Linked DNA regions of Homo sapiens. The protein of the gene in region 1 purifies or fractionates together with the protein of each later gene. This does not show direct contact. Each region holds a gene or a part of one and is shown in the gene's direction. Other genes may lie near its edges.

The links. Proteins that work in one complex are often made in the same cells at the same time.
Region 2: the proteins of WDR3 (region 1) and PWP2 purify together in Homo sapiens (affinity purification with mass spectrometry; 2 studies listed by BioGRID and IntAct, with this or other methods). This does not show direct contact.
Region 3: the proteins of WDR3 (region 1) and TBL3 purify together in Homo sapiens (affinity purification with mass spectrometry; 2 studies listed by BioGRID and IntAct, with this or other methods). This does not show direct contact.

Annotation. Positions count from the first base shown.
Region 1 is NC_000001.11:117,959,854-117,967,778, forward strand, and holds the end of WDR3 (WD repeat-containing protein 3), read left to right. Parts: 3' UTR 1-3,945; coding exon of another isoform or gene 3,946-4,085; 3' UTR 4,086-6,690; downstream 6,691-7,925. Other genes in the region: SPAG17 (sperm-associated antigen 17), read right to left, coding at 3,946-4,085, 6,756-6,900. UniProt on the Homo sapiens protein: Part of the small subunit (SSU) processome, first precursor of the small eukaryotic ribosomal subunit.
Region 2 is NC_000021.9:44,109,589-44,117,398, forward strand, and holds part of PWP2 (periodic tryptophan protein 2 homolog), read left to right. Parts: intron 1-4,164; coding exon 4,165-4,259; intron 4,260-4,590; coding exon 4,591-4,690; intron 4,691-5,036; coding exon 5,037-5,180; intron 5,181-5,675; coding exon 5,676-5,811; intron 5,812-6,102; coding exon 6,103-6,332; intron 6,333-7,810. UniProt on the Homo sapiens protein: Part of the small subunit (SSU) processome, first precursor of the small eukaryotic ribosomal subunit.
Region 3 is NC_000016.10:1,967,165-1,975,052, forward strand, and holds the start of TBL3 (transducin beta-like protein 3), read left to right. Parts: upstream 1-4,888; 5' UTR 4,889-5,000; coding exon 5,001-5,041; intron 5,042-6,891; coding exon 6,892-6,943; intron 6,944-7,032; coding exon 7,033-7,128; intron 7,129-7,211; coding exon 7,212-7,259; intron 7,260-7,373; coding exon 7,374-7,515; intron 7,516-7,598; coding exon 7,599-7,683; intron 7,684-7,763; coding exon 7,764-7,888. Other genes in the region: RNF151 (RING finger protein 151), read left to right, coding at 83-255, 561-657, 1,270-1,761. UniProt on the Homo sapiens protein: Part of the small subunit (SSU) processome, first precursor of the small eukaryotic ribosomal subunit.

The DNA of each region.
Region 1 (7,925 bases):
CCTATTGAGACAACCAGGTGCATAATTGATTGCCCTTTGGCCATAAAAATGCAGTGTCATGGATCTTAGAGCTAAAAAGGACTGTAAAAATTACCCAGAACAGCGTCCTCAGACTTAACCTTCTGCAAGTTATGTCTGTATATAAGAAGATTCTAATTGCTAACTGTTTATACTTTTCTGAATAAAATAGTTGTTTCTAATTAAAAAGTAGCCAAGCTAAGATGCCTGGCTGGGCTTCTGAGGAATTAATACACTCGTGTGTGTGTGTGTGTGTGTGTGTGTGTGTGTGTGTGTATGTGTATGTGTATGTACACATACATATATATAGTTGACACTTGAAAAATGCAGGTGGTAGGGGCACTGACCCACCCCTACGCCCCGCACAGTCAAAAATCTGCATATAACTTTTGATTCCCCAAAGTCTTAAGTACTAGTAGCCTGTTATTGACTGGGAGCCTGACTGATGTATTATATATATTGTATACTGTATTCTTAAAGTAAGCTAGAGAAAAGAAAATGTTACTTAGAAAATCATAAGGAAGAGAAAATATATTTACTGTGTTTATCAATACTATAAGTGTATGTCATCTGTTTATAAAATGAATTGTCTGTCTGGATTGGCAGGCAACCACAGCCGCAGACCTCAATCTGTGGTACTTATCAAGCATCAGCTTTTTCTTGTAATGTCATGACTTTTCTCTGCTTTTTGGGAGCACTGTGATATGCAGTTTACTGGGGCGATGAGTTGTTCATGCACAGGTGATTAGTGTCACAGCATTTTAAGTGCATACGCACAACACTTGAGCTCACTGCATAGCAACAGGAGGTGGCTGTGAAATTATTTCAGTAACATACTGTGTATTACAGTTCATTTTATGCAGCTATGATTTAATACTGCATCTTTACATTATTTTACATTTCTCCCAAAACTGTGAATTGCACCATGTATGATCTGTATTTGTGTGTGTTAATGTTGATAATAGATTTGCGTGTATTTTATGGCAGTAAATGATAAAATAGTCTAGTATCTACATATATTTTGTGCATTCATGATATAACTACTTTTTTCCTAATTTTTTTCATCTGAAACTTTTCTCATTGTTTCAGATCTCCAAAAATTTTTCCAATATATTTATTGAAAATATCTGGGCTGCGTGCAGTGGCTCACGCCTGTAATCCCACCACTGTGGGAGGCCGAGGCAGGCGGATCACAAGGTCAGGAGTTCCAGACCAGCCTGGCCAACATGGTGAAACCTCATCTCTACTAAAAATACAAAAAACTAGCTGGGCGTGGTGGCAGGCGCTTGTAATCCCAGCTACTCAGGAGGCTGAGACAGGAGAATCACTTGAACCCGGCAGGCGGAGATTGCAGTTAGCCAAGACAGTGCCACCAGCATTCCAGCCTGGGCAACACAGTGAGACTCCATCTCCAAAATAATAATAGTAAAAAAAAATCTGTATAACAGTGGAGCCAAGTGGTTAAAACCCATGTTCAACGGATTGTCTACTGTATATCTTCATGGTAAGGATTTGGGGAATGTTCTAGGAAAAGATATTGACAGATACCTCTGGGTCTGGGCTTTTCTTTTGGGGAAGTTTATAAATGACTAAATCATACTTCTTGTTACAGGCCTGTTTAGATGTTCTGTATCTTCTTGAGACAGTTTTGCTTTTTATCTTTTTTGTTGTTGTTAATCCCAAAGATTTAAAACTATGGTTTCTGTCTGAATTTGGTCATTGCAACCAAGTTACTGTGTTGTGGGGCCACCATTTTCTTCTAGGCTCAGATATGCAGTCCTTGTGGCTTGCCGATTTGTGTCCCAAACCACAAGTCTTAATGTTCTTGAGCATAACACAATCACTGAAGTGAGTAAGGGATGCAGTGGTGTTATTTGTTGGGCAGAATAAATAAGTGAATTTTGGCATAGAGTTTCTGAAGGCATAACTATGAAGGCAAGAGAATAGGCAGGCAGGATAATGCATTCTAGGTGCTTTCCAAGGAGTCAGTGTTGTTTAGGCAGCTATTCCTGCCACCAGGGAGAGGAGTTAATTCTTGAAAAAAAATTTAATTTTTTATGAGAACAGAAGTTGATTCAATATCCTTCTTAGAGTTGCTCATCAGAACATAAATGTCACTTTCTAGTAACATTTTTGATGGTTTCCAAACCAAAACAAGTTCCAGGAGGGCATTCGAGATGTATACATCATCAATAATTACTCTTATGTTAAAAGTTGCTGTTTTCCCGTAGCTTTGCCACCATTTATAACTCAAAAGCCTGATAGTGCTAGGGAATGTAAAGATGTTTCTGTCTGCTAAGTGTTATACTAATCGAAGAGAAGGAGAACTTTTATGATAAAGTGACATGTACAGAACCTAGCCAAGTTACAATTTTTGGTCAAAATACTTGAAACTCTTTAACTCTAAAAGTTTAAGGTCAATAGGTGCATTATAAAGTAAATTTTAAGCCAGGCAAATTTCTAGTCATTAAGTCAGTATTCATTGCCTTAGTCAGCCATTGGCTGTATATAATCCTTAATATAAAAACCATCTAATGACTAATATCTCTTGCATATTGTGAAGTAAGTTACCTATAGAAATTCTGTAGTACCATAAAGAAAAGCCTTTTGAGATTGCAGTGAGCTGAGATTGTGCCACTGCACTCCAGTCTGGGCAACAGAGCCAGACTCCATTGAAAAAAAAAAAAAAGGCTCTTGAATGATGTATTGGGAGTAAAACATTTAGGCTTATTTTTAAAAATGTATATATCCATCCACTTAGAGAAAATATGCTTAAAAATTTTGAAATTCACTGGCTGGAAGCTAGGTGCTTTGTATATTTGGTATTAAATTGTTTCTCAATGGCAAATGTCATAAATTATATCTCATTCTAAAGATATCTAGCAAATCTCCAGCAGAGATCTAGGACAGTGCCCAGGAAAGCAATGGTATCTGTTGGTAGGTACAGGACTGTATATAGGACTCTATTCACTTAGCTGTAAATGATGAGCCTGCTCAATGCAGCCTTTTCAGGCCAGATTAGTCTTCAGAAAGAGAGGGAGGTTGTGAGCAGAAGCTTAATGAAGAAACCACATTGGCTTACAGTTACTGTCTGCAATCCACCCCCATTCCTCACAATTTAAGCTCCTAAGTTTGAGATGGGGCTAAGGTTCTTAAAGGTAGTATCACCATATATTCAAGTCCTTTCTCTTTATTTCTGAGGTTTTTGGGATCCAAGCAGCCCTGGTATGTTTTTAGAACACAGTACACATTGTGTAACAGTCACTGAGCCCAACTCTTACATAGGGCCTGGCAGTGTTGCCCTTGTGTATCCCTTCCCCTTGAGTATGGGGTCGGACCTAGTGACTGGCTTCTAGTGAACAGAATACAGTAAATATAATGGGATGTGTCTTCCAAGATTAGGGTATAAAGCACTGAATTCTACCTTGCATGAGCATTACATTTTATAATATATATAAAGAAGCAACTAGTATAGTTATTTAAACAAATATTTTCTTTTTTTTTTTTTTTGAGACAGAGTCTCGCTCTGTCTCCCAGGCTGGAGTGCAGTGGCACGATCTTGGCTCACTGCAAGCTCCGCTTCCTGGGTTCACGCCATTCTCCTGCCTCAGCCTCCAGAGTAGCTGGGACTACAGGCACCCGCCACCACACTTGGCTGATTTTTTCTATTGTTTAGTAGAGACGGGGTTTCACCAAGTTAGCCAGGATGGTCTCGATCTCCTGACCTTGTGATCCACCCACCTCGGCCTCCCAAAGTGCTGGGATTACAGGTGTGAGCCACCGGGCCCGGCCTAAACAAATATTTTCATTCATTCAGGCCAGGTGGCTTATAGGTTTCTGACTATAAGAAGAGGGGAAGAAACCTGGGGTCTAATACCTCAAATTTGAATGCTTGACAATCAAATTCCCATTTATTACTTACTGTACCTAATGTGGAGAAACTTTACGAGACATGAAGACTCCAAGTGTGGAGGAATAAATTGTAGAAGTTCTCTGGACCATTGGATTTTCTTTTCCCTGGGGAAAGTCTTTTGGTCGTTTATCATAATTGCTGCTTGTTAAAACAGGTAAAATACTTGTTAAGGGCTGTGCTTTTCATGACTAAATTATTTGCATATATAAACCTAAATAACATTTTAGAATCATAGAATTTCTTCTCTGGCAACATCAGTTCAATTTTAGGTAACTGTCTATCCAATGCAAATTCTGCATGCTCAGGCTTGGGGGTTAGAGGATGGATATGCCAATGTCTAGAATGTCTTCTGTTCTCCCTAGTGTACATTTCTCTCCTAACTGTGACTGGCTTTCTATAAGGAGCCATCAGTATGGTCAAGCCCCAAACCATATCTACATCAGATTTCATGCTTTTTTTTTTTTTTTTTGGTGGGGAGAGGGACAGATCATTGTTGACACTGTAAGTAAGTAGATAAAAGATCTGATAAGATTTTTTGCCCTTTATCTGTGTCTGACAGGTTCTCTCTAATCTATAAGCAGGGAAATAGAAAATTTATTATAAATACAAATGATTTCATTGCTATGATCAGCAGCAGTGACTCAGGTATTTGCATCTAATAACCTGTGTGGAGAGGGTAAGGGCACTTGATTTAGTTACCAGAGGAAAAAACTAGTTCTTTGGCTAGTTTCCTTCTGTCACAATGGAAAAACCCTGTCATTACTCAAAGGAAGAGAAAAAGGGAGGGGAGGAAGGTGAGAGGAAGGGAGAGAGACTTTCCCAGTGAGGACTTTCCTTTCCTATTTTATATTTTGCTCCATTGTACTTACTGCCATCATTGTTTATGGTTTACTTACTTTATGTATTGTCTGTCCTCCCACTGGAATGTAAGCTACATAAAGGCAGGCGTTTCGGCATCTTTGAAAGCATAAATGAACAAATGAACTAAACTTCATTTATTGACATCAGTGCTATCTGACACAAGTTCCTTTAACTTTCTCCTTCACCTCGGAATATCTGAATCATCAGCTATCTTCAGCTTCTCCCTTGCCAAGACTAACCCTTCAGCTCTGTTTTTTATTATTCTTTTGCCCTGTTTTGGATATTGCAGTTTCAATCACTTCTACTCATTCATATTTTTAATATATATCTTCTGCTCCACTCTCTTCAGCCTACAAACATGTAGGTCTACATTAAACTGAAAATCCTTCCTATATTCTGTTGCATCCTTGAGTAACATATTCTCTTGCTCTTTCCTTTAATAAATTTTCTTGAAAGAATATCCATAACTAATGTTTCTGCTTTCTTAATACAGTCATTCTTTACCTTTTGCAATTTAGTTTTTATCCCAACCAAATTTAACACTTTAAATCTGAATTTTCTTTGACATCTCAATAGCATCCGTCAATTGTGTCCGTCTTTTCCTTGAAATTCTTCCTAAGGCTTTTGAAGTATTTCACCATTTTCTAATTGCTGCTTTTGTCTCCACTGGCTCTTCTTCCTCCTGCTCCCTAAACCGACTCCAGATTTCTGTTCCTTGCCCATACATTCAGCCATCACCTCTGTGTAAACGATGCTTAAAATTATTATATCTCCAATTCTGACTTCTCAGTTGAGATCTAATATTACATATACATGATTCATTACCTCAGCCCAAAACTTTGAAGTTGAACTCGATGTCCTCTTTCTTCCATCCATCAATGGCTTCTACCTCAGATTTTGCAGTTTCCTTCCCCCACCATGTCTTTCATTCATGTCCCTCTTTTATGTTGACTGTTCCCCCACTCCCAGTTCTTGTCCTCACACATGGCCCATTCAGGTAGACTTCTAATGGTACTTTTACACATCCAGTTGTTCCCCTTTGACATGTCCTGCACAATAACCCTGGATTCATCTTAATAAAGATATGCTGATCATGTCACCCACAGGGTCAGGAATCTGCAGTGGTTCACTGCTGCTTAAATAATAAAATTCAAGCCAAGGATTTAAGATCTTTCATAACTTGACTCCAACCTACTTTCCCACTATATTCCTAATACTCAAGCTTTTGGCAAGTTGAACTCCCTGCCAATCATCCCAAACACCTGGAGCTTTCCTGTTGCCATGGTTTTGTTCATTATTTTTACTTAAAGTTCCCGTCAATCAAGTTTTCACATTCTATAAGATCCAGCTCAAAAATCAAATAAATAGAGAACTGTAACACAAGCAGCACACAATTCATGCCACTGGAGAAAGTACAAAATAGAAATAAAATGTGAAGACTTTATTTCTGCTACAAATTATATAATACCTTTTAAGACAGAGTCCAATTATCCATTTTTATATATGATAAACTATTTTATACAGTACCTTGGAGGTAATAGGTTCTTGATATCTATCTAATATCTGTTTGGCTGAAGACACTGATAAGGAGGAATGCATGCATAATTCAGTGAATACCCAACCTTTATAATAATAAGGTATTTCCTATCCTTCCATAAAATTATAATTTTTTTGTGATAGATACTTGCTGTTTTATTATTCTGTCTGATATTCCGTAGATAGCCAATAACATTTACATTTATTCAATCTGAAGTTACTGCACATATACTATGTGTCAGGTATTTTTTTAGATTTGGCTAGGTGCTTTCAAAGATGAATGAAGATGCTCTTTGTCTTAATAAATTTAACTCTGATTTTGAAGATAGAATTAATAAAGTAGAGATGCATTTTGACTTCCATGTTTTCCTCACTCGTGTAATTTCTGCACTATATATGATTACTCAAGTTGAACTTTAAAGGATATTTGCTTCCACAGGTAGGAACAGAACCTCATGCTCTGTCATAATCTCGATATTGTGAGAGATGTGTGCTGATCCCTTGGCCCCATCCTCTCCAACAGCTGTGGCAAATAACTCTATATTCAGTTCTGTCTGCATACCAGCTGCCACCTATAAGACACAAGGTAGCTTTAGGACCAGACAACTCTGAGTTCAAACCTTGCTTTTAATAATATGAATTTGAGCAAGTTACTTAAACTCTCTTACCTTTGGTTTCTTCATCTATAAATTTGGCACTAACAAATGGTAGTTATTATAAGCATTTAGCGGAATTACTTCATAATGAAGGTAGAATTCCATTAAGTAAAGGGGAGCCAGGGTAAATTGTTGAAGGGGCAAACCAGGTGCTATTTAGGAAAAAGCATAAGGAAGCTAAATGCCAGGTTATTGGAAGTGGAACTGAAGGCAAAATTTTGCAATACTCCTAATTGTGCTAGTTTTTGAATGTCGGTAGTGACTTTCAGTAGTGAAATCTGCAATAGCGGCTACTGCAGACAAAGATAAATTTAATCTAATATAAATATAAATCAGGAGGCTGAGGCAGGAGAATTGCTTGAACGCAGGAGAATTGCTTGAACCCAGGAGGCAGAGGTTTCAGTGAGCCGAGATCGCGCCACTGCACTCCAGTCTGGTGACAGGGCAAAACTCCATCTCAAAAAAAAAAAAAAAAAAAAAAATTCATCTAACAGACTTGGTGACTACCATAACTTTCCTACCCTGTTCCTTGCAGGGGTGTCCAATATTTTGGCTTCCCTGGGCCACATTAGAAGAAGAAGTATTGTCTTGGGCCACACACAAAATATACTAACAATAACGACAGGTGATGAGTTTAAAAAAAAATCGCAAAAAAATCTCATCATGTTTTAAGAAAGTTTAGGAATTTGTGTTGGGCTGCATTCAAAGCCGTCCTGGGCCATGGGTTGGACAAATGTGACTTTAGGGTATTCCTAATGCAGGATGCATAAAATAATGAAACCAGTAGAGGGAGATAAAATTAGTTTAAATGCCCAACTGCTTAGTTTGAAAACCCGTGGAAGAGGATTGCACCAACAAAGAAGAAACCTGATACAGAAGGAAGAAGGAACACAGCAAGGCATGGGCGTCTTGCCTTGTTCTTTGAAAAGAACACTAGCCAG
Region 2 (7,810 bases), on another chromosome or scaffold:
TGGGGTTTAGCGGTTTCTTCCTGTGTGCTGTTGCACTTTGCTTCACTTTGTTGCACTCTGGCTCTGTGCGGATGCTGTTTTACCACGAAGCGAAGGTGTGTGGAAACACTGCTTGGAGAAAGTTGGTCGGTGCCATTTTTCCAGCAGTGGGGGCTCACTTCATGTCTCTGTGTCACATTTTGGTAATTTTGTGATATTTCAAAGTTTATTATACCTGTGAGGGTGATTTGTGATCATCTTTGCTGTTGCTATCGTGATTGTTCTGGGGTGCCGTGATCCGTGCCCATGTAAGACAGCGAGCTTAATCGGTAAGCACTGTGTGTGCTGTGCCTGCTCCACCGACCGGCTGTTCCCCACCCCCCCACGTCTCTCTTCCTCTACTTGGGTCTCCCTATTCCCTGACACAAACAATGCTGAAATTAGGCCAGTTAATAATGGCCTACAGTGGCCACTACGTGTTCATGTGAAAGGAAGAGTCACACAACTCTCACCTGAAATCAGAAGCTAGAAGGGACTCAGCTTAGTGAGGAAGGCATGTCAAAAGCTGAAATAGGCCAAAAGCCAGGTCTCTGCCACCAAACAGGCAAGTTGTGAATGCAAAGAAAAAGCTTTTGAAGGAAATTAAAAGTGCTACTCCAGTGAACACACAAATTACAAGAAAGCCAAAATAGCCTTATTGCAGATACGGATAAAAGTTTGAGTGATCCAGATAGAAGATCAAACCAGCCACAACATTCCTTTAAGCAAGTCAAAGCCTAATGCACAGCAAGGCCCTACCTGTCCTCTGTTCTGTGAGGGCTGAGGTGAGGAAGCTGCAGGAAAGAAGTTGGAAGCTAGCAGAGGTTGGTTCATGAAGTTTAAGGAAAGAAGCCATCTCTACAACATAAAAGTGCAAAGCGAAGCAGCAAGTGCTATGGAGAAGCTGCAGGAAGTTATCCAGAAGATCTAGCTGAGATCATTGATGAAGCTGACTACACTAAACACAAAATTTCAATGGAGACAAAACAGCCTTCTATTGGAAAAAGATGGCCAGGCGCAGTGGCTCATGCCTGTAATCCCAACACTTTGGGAAGCCAAGGTAGGCAGATCATTTGAGGCCAGGAGCTTGAGACCAGCCTGGCCAATATGGTGAAACCCCGTCTCTACTAAAAGTACAAAAATTAGCCAGGCATGGTGGCACATTCCTGTAATGCCAGCTACTCAGGAGGCTGAGGTGGAAGAATTGCTGGAACCTGGGAAGCAGAGGTTGCAGTGAGCTGAGATCGTGCCAGTACACTCCAGCCTGGGCAACAGAGCAAGACTCTATCTAAAAATAAATAAATTAAAAAAAAAGAAAAAGATGCCATCGAGGACTTACATAGCTAGAGAAAAGTCAGTGTCTGGCTTCAAACAACAGGCTGACTCTCTTATTAGGGGCTAATGCAGCTGGGGCCATTAAGTTGAAGCCAGTGCTAATTCACTGTTCTGAAAATCCTAATGCCCTTCACAATGATGCCCAAGCTACTCTGCCTGTGCTCTATAAGTGGAACAGCAAAGTCTGGACGACAGCACATCTGTTTACAGCATGGTTTCCTGAATCTTTCCAGCCCATTGTTGAACCCACTAAGGTTCCTTTCAAAATATTTCTGCTGTTGGACAACGTACCTGGTCACCCATGAGCTCCAATGGAGACGCATAAGGAGATGCTGTCTTCATGCCTGCTAACACCACATCTCTTCTTCAGCCTACGGGAGTAACTTTAACTTTCAAGTCTTACCATTTAAGAAATATATTTTATAAGGCTCTAGCTGCCAAAGATAGTGATTCCTGTAATGGATCTGGGAAAAGCCAATAAAAAGCTTTCTGGGAAGGAGTCGCCATTCTAGTTGTCATTTCATGATTCATTCAATGAGGGCAAAGTGTCGACATTAACAGGAGTCTGACAGAAGTTTAGTATCAAGCCTCATGGATGACTTTGAAGGGTTCGAGACTTTGGTGGAAGAAGTTACTGCAGATGCAGTAAAGATAGCAAGAGGATTCGAAATGAAAGCAGAGCCTGAAATGGGACTGAATTGCCGCAATGTTGCCATCAATCTTGAATGAATGAGGAGCTGCTGCTTGTGGATGAGCAAAGCAAGTGGTTTCTTTTCTTTTTTTTGAGACAATGTCTCACTCTTGTCCCCCAGGCTGGAGTGCTATGGCATGATCTTGGCTCACTGCAACCTCCACCTCCTGGGTTCAAGCAATTCTCCTGCCTCGGGCCCCCCTACCAAGTAGCTGGGATTACAGGCGCCTACCACCACGCCCAGCTAATTTTTGTATTTTTAGTAGAGAAGGAGTTTCATCATTGTTGGCCAGGCTGGTCTAGAACTCCTGACCTCAGGTGATCCACCCGCCTCAGCCTCCCAAAGTGCTGGGATTACAGGTGTGAGCCACCATGCCCGGCCAGCAAGTGGTTTCTTGAGATGGAATCTACTTCTGGTGAGGATGCTGTAAAGACTGTTGAAATGACAACAAAGGATTTAGAATATGACATCAACTTAGTTGATAAAACGCTGGGAGCATTTGTGAGGATTGACTCCGGTTTTGAAAGAAGGTCTGTTGTGGGTAAAATGCTATCAAACAGTATCACATGCTACAGAGACATCTTGTGAAAGGAAGAGTCCATCGATACGGCAAGCTTCACTGTTGTGTTAGGAATTGGCAACGGCCACCCCGTTTTCAGCAGCTGCCACTGTGCCTGGTCAGCAGCCATCCACATCGAGGCAGACTGTCTGCCAGCAAAAAGATGAAGACTCACTGAAGGCTCAGATGATTGTTAGCATTTTTTAGCAGTAAAGTGTTTTTAAATTAAGGGATGCACGTTGTTGCTTTAGACAGAATGCTTGTGCACACTGATAGACTACAGCACACATGAGTAGACTGCAGCGCACACCAATAAAGTACACACTTCGACGACAGTACACACGAACAGACTACAACTCACACGAATAGAGCACAGTGCACGCTTACAGACTACAGCACACGCTAGTAGACTACGCCGTACTGTTTACAGTATGGTGTAAACACAGCTCGGCTGCTTATGGGGAAGCTGGAATGTGTGTGCCTCACTCAGTTGCAGTGTAAGCGTTATCTGCAGCATCTCCGCGGGATTCCTGTAGCCCCTTATTTTCCATTTTTCTAGCAACAGTGTTACATGGGTGCACTGTCATGGTGGTTAATTCCTGTTGGGCACTTAGCTTGCTTCTGGTATTTTGATGTCACACTGAGGCGGAATAATCCTCTCATCATATCATCCTGGAAGCAGAATTGATGTATCCAAAGCCCATTTTTAAGGCTTTTAATGCATTTCACTAGAGTTCCTCCAGGGACAACGTCATTTCTTTTTCTTTTTTTTTTTGAGACAGAGTCTTGCTCTGTCACCTAGGCTGGAGTGCAGTGGTGCGGTCCCAGCTCACTGCAACCTCTGCCTCCCAGGTTCAAGCGATTCTCCTGCGTCAGCCTCTTGAGTAGCTGGTATTACAGGCGCCCACCACCACGCCTGGCTAATTTTTTGGGTTTTTTTGTTTGTTTGTTTGTTTTGAGGCAGAGTCTTGCCCTGTCGCCCAGGCTGGAGTGCAGTGGTGCAACCTTGGCTCACTGCAAGCTACACCTCCCGGGTTTACGCCATTCTCCTGCCTCAGCCTCCTGAATAGCCGGGACTACAGGCGCCCGCCACCACACCCGGCTAATTTTTTGTATTTTTAGTAAAGACGGGGTTTCACCGTGTTAGTGAGGATGGTCTCAATCTCCTGACCTCGTGATCCGCCCGCCTTGGCCTCTCAAAGTGCCGGGATTACAGGTGTGAGCCACCGCGCCTGTCCAATTTTTTGTTTTTTGTTTTTATAGTAGAGACGGGGTTTCACCATGTTGACCAGGCAGGTCTCGTACTCCTGACCTTATGATATGCCCGCCTTGGCCTCCCAAAGCACTAGGATTATAGGCGTGAGCCACCGTGCCCGGCCAACAATGTCATTTCTTTTTCAGGAGTGGGGGGTATCCACAGATGAGCTCTGGCTTGTGGGGTCCAGTAAGATTGGAGGCGCTACTTGGGGAGGGTGAGCCGCTGGTCCCAGGCCAGGCCTGGCCTGTCTCCCTCATGTGACTTGAGGACCAACAGCACACTGTGGTTTTTGTCTTTATCAGCAACAAATCTGACACGCTGCCCCTGGCCACTCGGTACAACGTCAAGTGCGTGGGGCTGTCCCCGGATGGCCGCCTCGCTATCATCGTCGATGAAGGTACTTGCCCTTGATGTGGGCGGGTACTGAGGGGACCAGTGAGGAGGACTCAGGGCTGTGTGGGTCTGAAATGATCCGCTCCCCAGTCGCCTCCGTGTTGGGGCCCGGGTGGGGATTGGGGATGAGGGTGTCATGGGCGAGGCTGCGTCCCCGCCGCAGGCTGTGTCTGTGGCATCACCTGTGGCAGGGCAGGGCCTCATGGCCCTTGGGCATTCTCAGTCCTGACTCCTCACAGTGGACGCGAGAAAGACCTTTCTCCGTTTTTCCCGTGCTATGTATCTGGGGTGGCCCCTGGGGTAGCTGCGCGGTGGTGACCTCTGGCGTCCTGCAGGGGGCGATGCGCTGCTGGTCAGCCTGGTCTGCAGGTCTGTGCTGCACCACTTCCACTTCAAGGGCTCTGTGCACAGTGTGTCCTTCTCCCCTGATGGCAGGTAAGGGGGACAGCTTGGGGGCAGGAGGGTTCGGCCGTGCATGCCGACGGTGAGGCCCACTGCCCAGCTCGTTTCCCTGGGCCCCGGGTTGTGACGTTGGGTTGGGCACACGGCCCAAGCTCTGGCATTGGTGACCCCCTTTTCTGGAGGAGAAGGCTTGGTGCGGCCAGGCTGCCCTCCCTCCAGGGCTGTTTCTTCCCTGACTTTTGCTTCCTCTGCTCCTTGGCCTCCATCCTGCAGGAGGCGGGACTCCAGAAGGCCCAGGTGGGTGCAGGCTGAGACTCCACAGTGGCCTTAGGGCCATTGCTGGTCTTGAATATCAACTATGTCCGCGTTCCTTCCATAGGAAGTTTGTTGTCACAAAGGGTAACATTGCCCAGATGTATCATGCCCCTGGGAAGAAGCGGGAGTTCAACGCCTTCGTTCTGGACAAGACCTATTTTGGGCCCTACGATGAGACCACCTGCATCGACTGGACGGATGACTCCAGGTGCGGCCTCAGAGGCTTCGGGGGAGCGGGGCTTGAGAGAGGCCCCTTGGACAGGTCACCCCCTTGGGCCCTGCAGCTTCGTTCCGCAATGGCATCTCGGCCTCCTTTGGGGCTGGGCGCTGCCCACACCATCAGGACTGGCTGGGTGGCTGTGGTCGAGTCTTTGCGGCTCTGAAGTGTGTGCTGTGGCCGAGCCTCCTGCCCCTGCACTGCCCTTTCACCTGTTTGTCCCAGAAACTGGGAATGCTGTGGTTGGCTCGGGCAGCGTCTGGGAGGAGTTAGGAAGGCAGACAGGGCAGGGACAGCGTCTGGGAGGTGTGAGGAAGGCAGACAGGGCAGGGGCTGTGCCGGGGTGTCTTCCTGTGCCTGGAGGCGTCTCAGCTCACTCTGAGACCACGTGGGGCTGTAGCGGTCTCCGTGCAGCCCTCTGGAGCTTGCACCTGGCTGCTTTGTTATGGCCAAGCCCTGAGGAGGTGCCATCTCCCTCTTTTCCAGGTGCTTTGTGGTTGGGAGCAAAGACATGTCCACCTGGGTGTTCGGAGCCGAGCGCTGGGACAACCTCATCTACTATGCACTGGGGGGACATAAGGATGCCATCGTGGCCTGCTTCTTTGAATCCAACAGCCTGGACGTATGTCCCTTTGCCAAGTTCCCTAGCCTGATGGTGGCCAAAAGCGGCTAGTTCAGGGAGGCCCCAGGCTGCAGGCGGCCTCTTCCTGCGGTTCCCCCAGGCTGTTCCCGTGTGGCCTGGGGGCATCTAGGGACCGATGGCAGCTGTGGCGGCCCATCGAGAATTGTTCTCAGAGTTCAGAGGGGCCGTCGGTGCCACTGGTCCCTGGATCTGAGCTGGAGGGAGGTGCCGGGTTGTGGCAGCTGGGCCAGTGTGGCTGGGGCTGGGGTGACCCTGTGCTTCCCCTTGCAGCTGTACTCACTCAGCCAGGACGGAGTGCTGTGCATGTGGCAGTGTGACACGCCCCCCGAGGGCTTGCGGCTGAAGCCCCCTGCGGGCTGGAAAGCAGACCTGTTGCAGCGGGAGGAGGAAGAGGAGGAGGAGGAGGACCAGGAGGGCGACAGAGAGACCACCATCCGGGGAAAAGCCACTCCGGCCGAGGAGGAGAAGACAGGAAAAGTGAAGTACTCACGGCTGGCCAAGTAGGTCTCTGAGGTGTGGTGGGCTGTGGCGGGGCACTCCTGTGGGAATCTCTTGCCCCCAGAGGGATCTGGATGTGGGGTCCCCAGGGCCGAGGAGTGGGAGGTACAGAGAGCAGGCCTGCGTCTCAGGGCCCCGGTTTGAGCACCCTCGAGTGCTTGGGTGTTGACCCTGCCCCTTAAGCAGGGTCCCTGCCTCGGCTGTCTGAGCTGCCTGTGTGCCCAGGGCAGGGCAGAGGGCGGTGGGTAGGGGTGCATAGGGGGCAGGGAGGTGTGCGGGCACTCCGTGACGGGAATAGCAGCACCTTGGGCCCTAAGGGGGTTGGGAGTTGTCTGTGGCCCCACCAGCTTCTGTGGAGTTTGGTGTGGGCGATAGTCCCTTGGCCTCGTGCAGGGAGATGCCGGGAGAGCATTTGGCAAGGGTGGAGGGAGGGACCGGGCTGTGAGTGGGCGCAGCGAGTGGTCTGAGTCCTGCTTCGGGGCCCGCTGGTGGGTGGTACTTGGTGCTTTTTCAGGCACTGAGCTGGGCCGTGCAGCCCCGCATCCGGACTCAGTCCCCCAGACGAGACGAGATGAGATGAGACTGAGCCCGGCCCCACGGACTGCCTGTGGGATGGCCTTAGCTGTGCCTGGAGCCCTGGCAGAGATGCTGCCCTGATTCGGGGTGTCCCGCGTCTGGGCTGTGGGGGGAGGCTGGTCAGGATCACATGAAGGCAGAGTTGCCCGCAGCTATGGTGTCTCCGTCACCCGGGTGCCCCAGCCTGGGCCCCTCCTTGCTGCAGTTGCTTAGCGCCTGCTGTGTGCAGGGCTCTGAACTTGGCACTGAGACACACTGCCCACCCTTGTGAGGCCTCCTCTCCGCCGGGGAGGAGAGGTGCAGTGATGAGGTGGCTGCGTGCGGAGGTGGGCGGCAGTTGGGGTCCCTGGGTGGGGAAGGCGCCCACACAAGGCCCTGCCTGTGGAGGGAGCCAGGCGGCCAGAACGGGCTGCCTTTGGAGGGGTTGGGGTCTGCTGGGTAGGTGGGAGTTGTGGCCATGAGAGCCCTGGGTCTGAGGAGCAGGGAGGGCCGGCTGGACTCCAGTGGGAGGAGGGTGCTTTGCCAAGGGCAGCGGAGTTGGAGGGTGGCCAGAACAGGTCCAAGTGGGTCAGTGCCCACAAGTGAGTCAGTGCCCGCGGGTGGGTCAGTGCCCGTGAGTCCGTGCCCGTCAGTGCCCGCGGGGACTTGGGGGTGTTGTGCTGGAGTCAAGACTTGAATGGGGACTGGAGGAAGAGGAAGGGATGATGGGCCCCCCAACCCCGCCCTGGGGAAGGGAGGTTCCAGGCAGCTCCAGGAAGACAGTGTGCCTGCTAGGCGGGGACTGCGGGCTGTCAGCGCGAAACATGTGAAGGGAGGGCCTGCTGCATTGGCAGCCAGTGCTCCCTGTCACTTGTTCAGGAGGGACGGGGTCCAGAAAGGAGAGGGAAGGACCAGGGCTGAGCTA
Region 3 (7,888 bases), on another chromosome or scaffold:
GTTCTGTGGCCCACCTCCCTGCCAAAAGCTTGCTGGGCTCTCTTGCTCGGTATGTGGACCAGGGACTGGATCACTGTCCCAGCCAGGTGCTGACACCTGGCCTTTGCAGGGTGGCGGGTATGATCTCAACCTCTTCGCCAGCCCTCCTGACAGCAACTTCGTGTGCTCCGTCTGCCATGGGGTTCTCAAGAGGCCAGCAAGGTTGCCATGCAGCCACATCTTCTGCAAAAAGTGCATCCTCCGGTGGCTAGCCAGGTGCCAGCGGGTACCCAAGGGGCTGGGAGGGCAGGAGTGAGACTGGGGGCCATTGCTGTGGCCCAGAACAGAGGGGAAAGTCAGCCAAAAGACTCAGCCACCAAATCTCCCTAAACTAAAATGTGTGTACCCTCACTCAGTAGTGTCTGCAGACCCCGGCCCCACCCTCAGAGCTGAGAGCGCCCTGTAATATGCCCTAATGCCTCATCCAGCTAATGAAGGGACCACCTGGGTCACCGAGTGAGGGCTTGACCAGGGCTCCCTTCCCACTCCCAACACTCACCCCTACTCATGCCTCCTTCCAGACAAAAGACCTGTCCGTGCTGTAGGAAAGAGGTGAAAAGGAAAAAGGTTGTCCACATGAATAAACTCCGGAAAACCATTGGCCGCCTGGAAGTCAAGGTAGCTCAAAGTACCCACTCCCCTGACCCTCAACCCTTCTCACCCTTGTAGGGGTGGGGCAGGGCTAGGAGAGAAGGCAGGAGAATCCCATCTTCAGAGAGAAACAAGTGCAGCCTTGGGACGACCAGACATAGCTGAGTTTGGATCGTGGCTCTACTGCTTAGTTGCTGTGTGACTTTAGGCAAGTCACCTAACTTTTCCAAGCCCCTGGGTTAGAAAATGGAGATTTTAGAGGACTTTTAAAATGGAGATTACAGAGGATTTTTAGAGGATCAAGTGCCCAGTGTGCCTGCCACTACTCTCTAGTCCCCTAGTTTTACAGATGGGTAAACCGAGGTTAAAAAGGAAAGCCTGGCATCCATACCACTCACCAGACCAACCCAACTGTGTACCTTCCAGTTCCCCAAGACTCAGGCCTCACCCTCTCCCCTGGAACTTCTAGCTTCTTCCCACGTCTAGGCATTTGCCCCAGTGTTCTCTCCACCAACTCACCAGAGTCAGAAAAGCGTGGGAGGCTCCCGGTTCCCTGGTTCCTGGCGAATGGAAAGCCAGGGGTGGGGGATTCCGTGGGTGTCCTGCCCGGTTTCTTCACACGTTCTCCTTCACCCTCAGTGCAAGAACGCCGACGCTGGCTGCATAGTGACATGCCCCCTGGCCCATCGCAAGGGGCACCAGGACTCATGCCCCTTTGAGCTAACGGCCTGCCCCAACGAGGGCTGCACCTCGCAGGTGCCGCGTGGGACCCTGGCAGAGCACCGGCAGCATTGCCAGCAAGGGTCCCAGCAGCGCTGCCCCCTGGGCTGCGGGGCCACCCTGGACCCGGCCGAGCGTGCTCGCCACAACTGCTACCGGGAGCTGCACAACGCCTGGAGCGTGCGCCAGGAGCGCCGTCGGCCCCTGCTGCTGTCCCTCCTGCGGCGTGTGCGCTGGCTGGACCAAGCCACCAGTGTCGTTCGTAGAGAGCTGGCGGAGCTCAGCAACTTCCTGGAGGAAGACACCGCTCTGCTGGAGGGTGCCCCACAGGAGGAGGCCGAGGCTGCCCCAGAAGGCAACGTTGGGGCTGAGGTGGTGGGGGAGCCCAGGGCCAACATACCTTGTAAATAGGTAAATAAAAGCAGACCCCCGGCCTGCCTGCCTCTGTGCCTGCGGCCCTCACAACTGTCACCGGTGCATCCCTGCTGCCCTCTCCAGGCATTTGCCTGCTCTCTTTCATCTTTTCTTTTTCAAAGGAAGGAGGCCGGGCGTGGGTGGCTCACGCCTGTAATCCCAGCACTTTGGGAGGCTGAGGTGGGTGGATCACCTGAGGTCAGGAGTTCGAGACCAACCTGACCAACATGGCGACACCCCGTCTCTACTAAAAATACAAAAATTAGCTGGGCGTGGTGGCAGGCGCCTGTAGTCCCAGCTACTCGGGAGGCTGAGGCAGGAGAATGGTGTGAACCCGGGAGGTGGAGGTTGCAGTGAGCCAAGATCACACCACTTCACTCCAGCCTGGGCGACAAGAGTGAGACTCCGTCTCATAAAAATAAATCAATAAATAGGCCAGGCGCGGTGGCTCACGCCTATAATCCCAGCACTTTGGGAGGCCGAGGCAGGCGGATCACAAGGTCAGGAGATCAAGACCATCCTGGCTAACACAGTGAAATCCCGTCTTTACTAAAAAATACAAAAAATTAGTCAGGCATGGTGGCGGGCGCCTGTAGCCCCAGCTACTCGCGAGGCTGAGGTAGGAGAATGGCCTGAACCCGGGAGGCGGAGCTTCCAGTGAGCGGAAACCGTGCCACTGCACTCCAGCCTGGGCGACAGAGCAAGATTCCGTCTCAAAAAACGAGGCCGGGCGCGGGGGCTCACGCCTGTAATCCCAGCACTTTGGGAGGCCGAGGTGGGCCGATCACGAGGTCAGGAGATTGAGACCATCCTGGATAACACAGTGAAACCCCGTCTCTACTAAAAAATACAAAAAATTAGCCAGACGTGGTGGCAGGCGCCTGTAGTCCCAGCTACTCGGGAGGCTGAGGCAGGAGAATGGTGTGAACCCGGGAGGCGGAGCTTGCAGTGAGCCGAGATCACGCCACTGCATTCCAGCCTGGGCAACAGACCCAGACTGTCTCAAAAAATAAATAAATAAAAATAAATAAATAAGGGGAATACAAGAATGGCTACTCCATAGACAGAATACCTTTTTCTTCTTTTTTGAGACTGGGTCTTGCTCTGGCACCCAGGCTGGAGTGCAGTCACGTGATTACGGCTCACTGCAGCCTCAACCTCCCTGGGCTCAAGCAATCCTCCCACCTCAGCCTCCTGAGTAGCTGGGACTACAGGCACGCACCACGACTGCCGGCTAATTTTTGTGTTTATTTTAGAGATGGGGTTTCACTGTGTTATCCAGACTGGTCTCAAACTTCTGGGCTCAAGTGATCCTCCTGCCTCCAAAGTGTTGGGATCACAGGTGTGAGCCACCATGATGGCCTACTTTCTTTCCCTCAAATATCTCTCCTCTCAGAGATTTTCCCTGATCATACTTCTCAGTTCTCCTTCTCAGTTACTTTCGTTTTTTCATTTTTTTCTTTTCTATTTTTTGAGATAGGGTCTCTGTTGCCCAGGCTGGAGTGCAGAGGCCCAATCACAGCTCACTAGAAACTCAGCTTCCCAGGCTCAAGCAGCCCTCTCACCTCAGCCTCCAGAGTAGCTGGGACTACAGGCACACCACCACCCCTACTAAATTTTCTGTGTGTGTGTGTGTGTATGTGGAGACAGGGTCTCGCCATGATGCCCAGACTGGCCCAGTTACTTTTTTTTTTTTCTCTGAGACAGTCTTGCTCTATCGCCCAGGCTGGAGTGCAGTGACGTTGCGATCTTGGCTCACTGCAACCTCCGCCTCCGGGTTCAAGCGATTCTCCTACCTCAGCCTCCCGAGTAGCTGGGATTACAGGCACCCGCCACCACACCAGGCTAATTTTTGTATTTTTAGCAGAGACTGGGTTTCACCATGCTGGCCAGGCTGGTCTCGAACTCCTGACCTCGTGATCCACCGGCCTCGGCCACCCAAAGTGCTAGGATTACAGGCGTGAGCCATCGCGCCCGGCCTGGCTGTTACTTTCTACCAGCTTCAGAGCCAGTAGCACAAATGGCTCAAAACCTTGAACTCAGAGTAAAAGCTAACTCCTCGCCACGGCGCACAGGCAACTGCATGCCCTCTGCCCTCTGCACCCACTCCCTGCAGCCACCCGGCTTGTTGCTACTCAATGCTTGGCACCCCCAGTCCTAGGCCTGTGCCCTGGCTGTTCTCAACACCATTCGTTCCACAGGGCTCCCTGCTTCGCGAACTTGTGTCTGCTCAGGCGTCACCTTCTCAATACAGCCTCCTCCTTCCTCCCTTCCGCTCCCTCCCTTCTGTTTTTTTTTCTTTCTTTCTTTCTTTTTTTCTGAGACGGAGTCTCACGCTGTCACCCAGGCTGGAGTCCAGTGGCGCAATCTCAGCTCACTGCAGCCTCCGCCTCCGGGGTTCAAGCGATTCTCCTGCCTCAGCCTCCCAAGTAGCTGGGATTACAGGCATGTGCCACCACGCCCAGCTAATTTTTTTTTTCTGTTTTTAGTAGAGACGGGGTTTCTCCACGTTGGTCAGGCTGGTCTCGAACTTCCGACCTCAGGTGATCCACCCGCCTCGGCCTCCCAAAGTGCTGGGACTACTGGCGTGAGCCAACGCGCCCGGCCCTCCTCCTTTTTCCATCGCGCTCAGCAACTATCACTCGTCGCCCGTTCTGTTTCTTCTCTGGTGTCCGCCAAGTGCCGATTACAGTGCTTTGCACACAGAAGGTGCTCAATACATGAATGCCTTTGAGATTACCCGGTTTATTCATTTACCTACGTTATTTATCAAGAGCCACACTGCGAGCCCAGGGGCAGGGTCAGGTTGACGGCTCTACGCACGGACCGCACCCGACAGCTGGTACCCCCACATCCCAGAACGCCGAAAAGCAGGAGTAAACGCTGGCTACAAATGCCTTTTTATACTGGTATCAAAGAGCCAGGCCACCAGCGATGCCACATCCGCCGGTCTACCCCCACCGACCCGCGAAGCACCCTCACAGCTCACGGCCCTCCCTCCAGGCCGGAAACGTCTCCGCCCGCTTCCGCTTCCCGATGCAGCCGCCACTGCCCGAAGCAAAGATGGCGCCAAGTGCGCGGCGCCGGCGGGGACGTCACAGTGGTCGCGCGCGGTGACGCCATCGCAGCGCGCCGGGAGTGTGGCGTTCTGTGAAGAGTTCGGTGCTAACCTCCCTCACGCGGCGGTGGCTGCCGGGACCCTAGCAGGTTTCAGCTGGAGCGGCGGCGGCGGCAACATGGCAGAGACCGCGGCCGGAGTGGGCCGCTTCAAGACCAAGTGAGCCCGGAGCTCTGGGGCCGTGCGGGGAGGGAGCTGGGTTTGCAGCCGGCATAGCGGAGGCGCGCGTGGGGTGGGCACGCATTGGGGTCCGTGGAGGCGAGAGGCTGTGTGTGCGCCGGCCCGCGGGGTCGCGGAGGCTGCGGTGATACTAGGCGGGAGAGCCGGCCCCGGCTGCTCTCGGGGAGGACGGCGATCGGAGCCCGGCCGCCGGGAGCAGCAGCGTGGGCTCATCGAGAAGCCGGCTATGGGGTGGAGTGGGGACCAGAAGTCCCGATGAGGGGAGGAGAGGGCTGAGCCTAGGTCGGGGCTGGTCCCGGGAGGCGGCGGGGGCGAAGAACCACCTCTGAGCAGTCGGCCTGGGGACCTTTCATCCGCGATCCGTCTTCTCCAGGGAGCAGGGAGAATGCAGGAGAGGGGCGGGTCCGCAGAAGCCCAGGAGGCCCTGAGTGCTGTGCCCCGTCACTCCCCAAGCCTTTGCCGAACAGCAGTGCTGGTGCCCCCGCCCTGGCAGCGCAGCCTCATGGGATTATCGTTTCCACTGGCGGCTGTGGGGCTTTGGTTGTGCCAAGCACTGGTAAAGGAAAGTCCCAGGCTGGCAGCACCGTCGTGGGAGGGTCAACTGGGTGCGGGGGCTGAGGGGCCGCTTTCGTTTTGGCAGTCAGGCTTCCAGAAGCGCAGTGAGCCAGGCCTTGACATCTGGGAAGAGAAGCCCAGGCCGCGTACAGGGAATAGGGGGAAGATAGGAAACCCGTCCCAGAGGCTGGGACAGGAGCAGTGGGGTGCACTGTGGGCCATGAGAAGGAAAGAAAGCAGAGGCAAGGGTGGCAGAGGCTCTTCTGGGCAAGGTCTGGGAGGTGTGTGGGCAGAAGGGAGGGGCTAACGCAGGGCAGTGACATCTTCAGTTATGTTCTGAAAGGTACCTGGCAGCAGGGTTAAGAGGTAGGTAGGGGAGGCCGGGCGCGGTGGCTCACGCCTGTAATCCCAGCGCTTTTGGAGGCCGAAGCGGGCGGATCACGAGGTCAGGAGATTGAGACCACGGTGAAACCCCGTCTCTACTAAAAATACAAAAAATTAGCTGGGCGCAGTGGCGGGCACCTGTAGTCCCAGCTACTCGGAGAGGCTGAGGCAGGAGAATGGCGTGAACCCGGGAGGTGGAGCTTGCAGTGAGCTGAGATCGTGCCACTGCACTCCAGCCTGGGCTGGAGACCCCTTCTCAGATCGAGACCCCTTCTCAAAAAATAAATAAGTAAAAAGAGGTAGGTAGGGGGTCCAGTGAAGAGGCCAGAGTGGCTGGCCAGAGACTGTGATGGGCTGGACCAGGTGGAGGCAGTGGAGAAGGAAGGAGAAGGGGCACGAGTGAGGTCACAGAAATGACAGCTGCTCGTGGGACCCGGGCTCTGGGCAAGCCTGGGGATGGAGAGAGGAGTCAGGGAGGGGAAGAGGTATGCCAGACCTCAGGGATGAAGACACTGGGAGGATGTGCTCTGGGCTGGCTACCCAGGCCTGGCCACCCACCGCCGGCAGGGGTGTTCCCAAGGAGCCCCCTGGCTCTCACTGGGGAATCCCTGGAAGCCCTGGGCTGTTGGGCTGACTCCACCTGACACAGGCCCACCCCCTACTGCCTCAGGGATCACCAGCCAGCTGCGGGTCTCTACTTCTCAGTGACGACGGTAGCTACAGCCCCCTGCAGTACTGCTGGTTCCACCCCATGCCCTGTCCCTGCTGTTGCCCAGAAACTCAAGGGCAGGGGCCATTGGGGTCACTTGGAGAGGAGCACCTAGCACAGGGCGGGGCCCTGGGGACTGAGGGGGTGGGTGGTGCTCATTCGCCTCCCGCTCTCCTTCCAGCTATGCTGTGGAGCGCAAAATTGAGCCTTTCTACAAGGGCGGAAAAGCACAGGTACCAGCCTGGGGAAGGGCAGTGGGGCGGGCAGCCAGAGGCCGCGGGGGGTGCTGAATGTTGCCTGGCTGAGACCTCTCTGTCCCCAGCTGGACCAGACTGGCCAGCACCTCTTCTGCGTCTGTGGCACCAGAGTCAACATTCTGGAAGTGGCCTCGGGGGCCGTGCTGCGGAGTCTGGAGCAGGTGAGGGCAGCCTGGGTGGGTGAGGGGCAAGTGGAGAGGGCAGCCCACTCACACCGTGCTCGGCACACCACTCTTTCTCCTAGGAGGACCAGGAGGACATCACTGCCTTTGACCTCAGCCCTGACAACGAGGTATGTGGGGCGGGGCCTGGAGGGGACCCGCTCCAGCGCCTCCCTCCCAGACTGAGTCCAGGAAGATGTGAGCAGGGTATTGCTGCCCCTCTGCTGACCTGTACCCTCCCCCAGGTGCTGGTGACAGCCAGTCGGGCATTGCTGCTGGCTCAGTGGGCCTGGCAAGAGGGCAGCGTTACCCGCCTGTGGAAGGCGATACACACGGCCCCCGTGGCCACCATGGCCTTCGACCCCACCTCCACTCTGCTAGCCACAGGTAGGGCCCTGCCGTGCAGGTGGGTCGTGGGCACAGATGCAGGGGCTTTGGGCATTCCACCCCCTCACCTTGCTTCCCCGCAGGTGGCTGTGATGGGGCCGTGCGCGTCTGGGACATCGTGCGGCACTACGGGACACACCACTTCCGAGGCTCGCCCGGTGTCGTGCAGTGAGTTGGAAGGTGGAGGGGGAGGGCAGAGGCACCACCCAGGCTGCACAGCTCACCCATCCTGTCCCGTCCGCCCACAGCCTAGTGGCCTTCCACCCGGACCCTACACGCCTGCTGCTCTTCTCCTCGGCCACGGATGCCGCCATCCGCGTGTGGTCACTGCAGGACCGGTCATGCCTGGCTGTGCTGACTGCCCACTACAGCG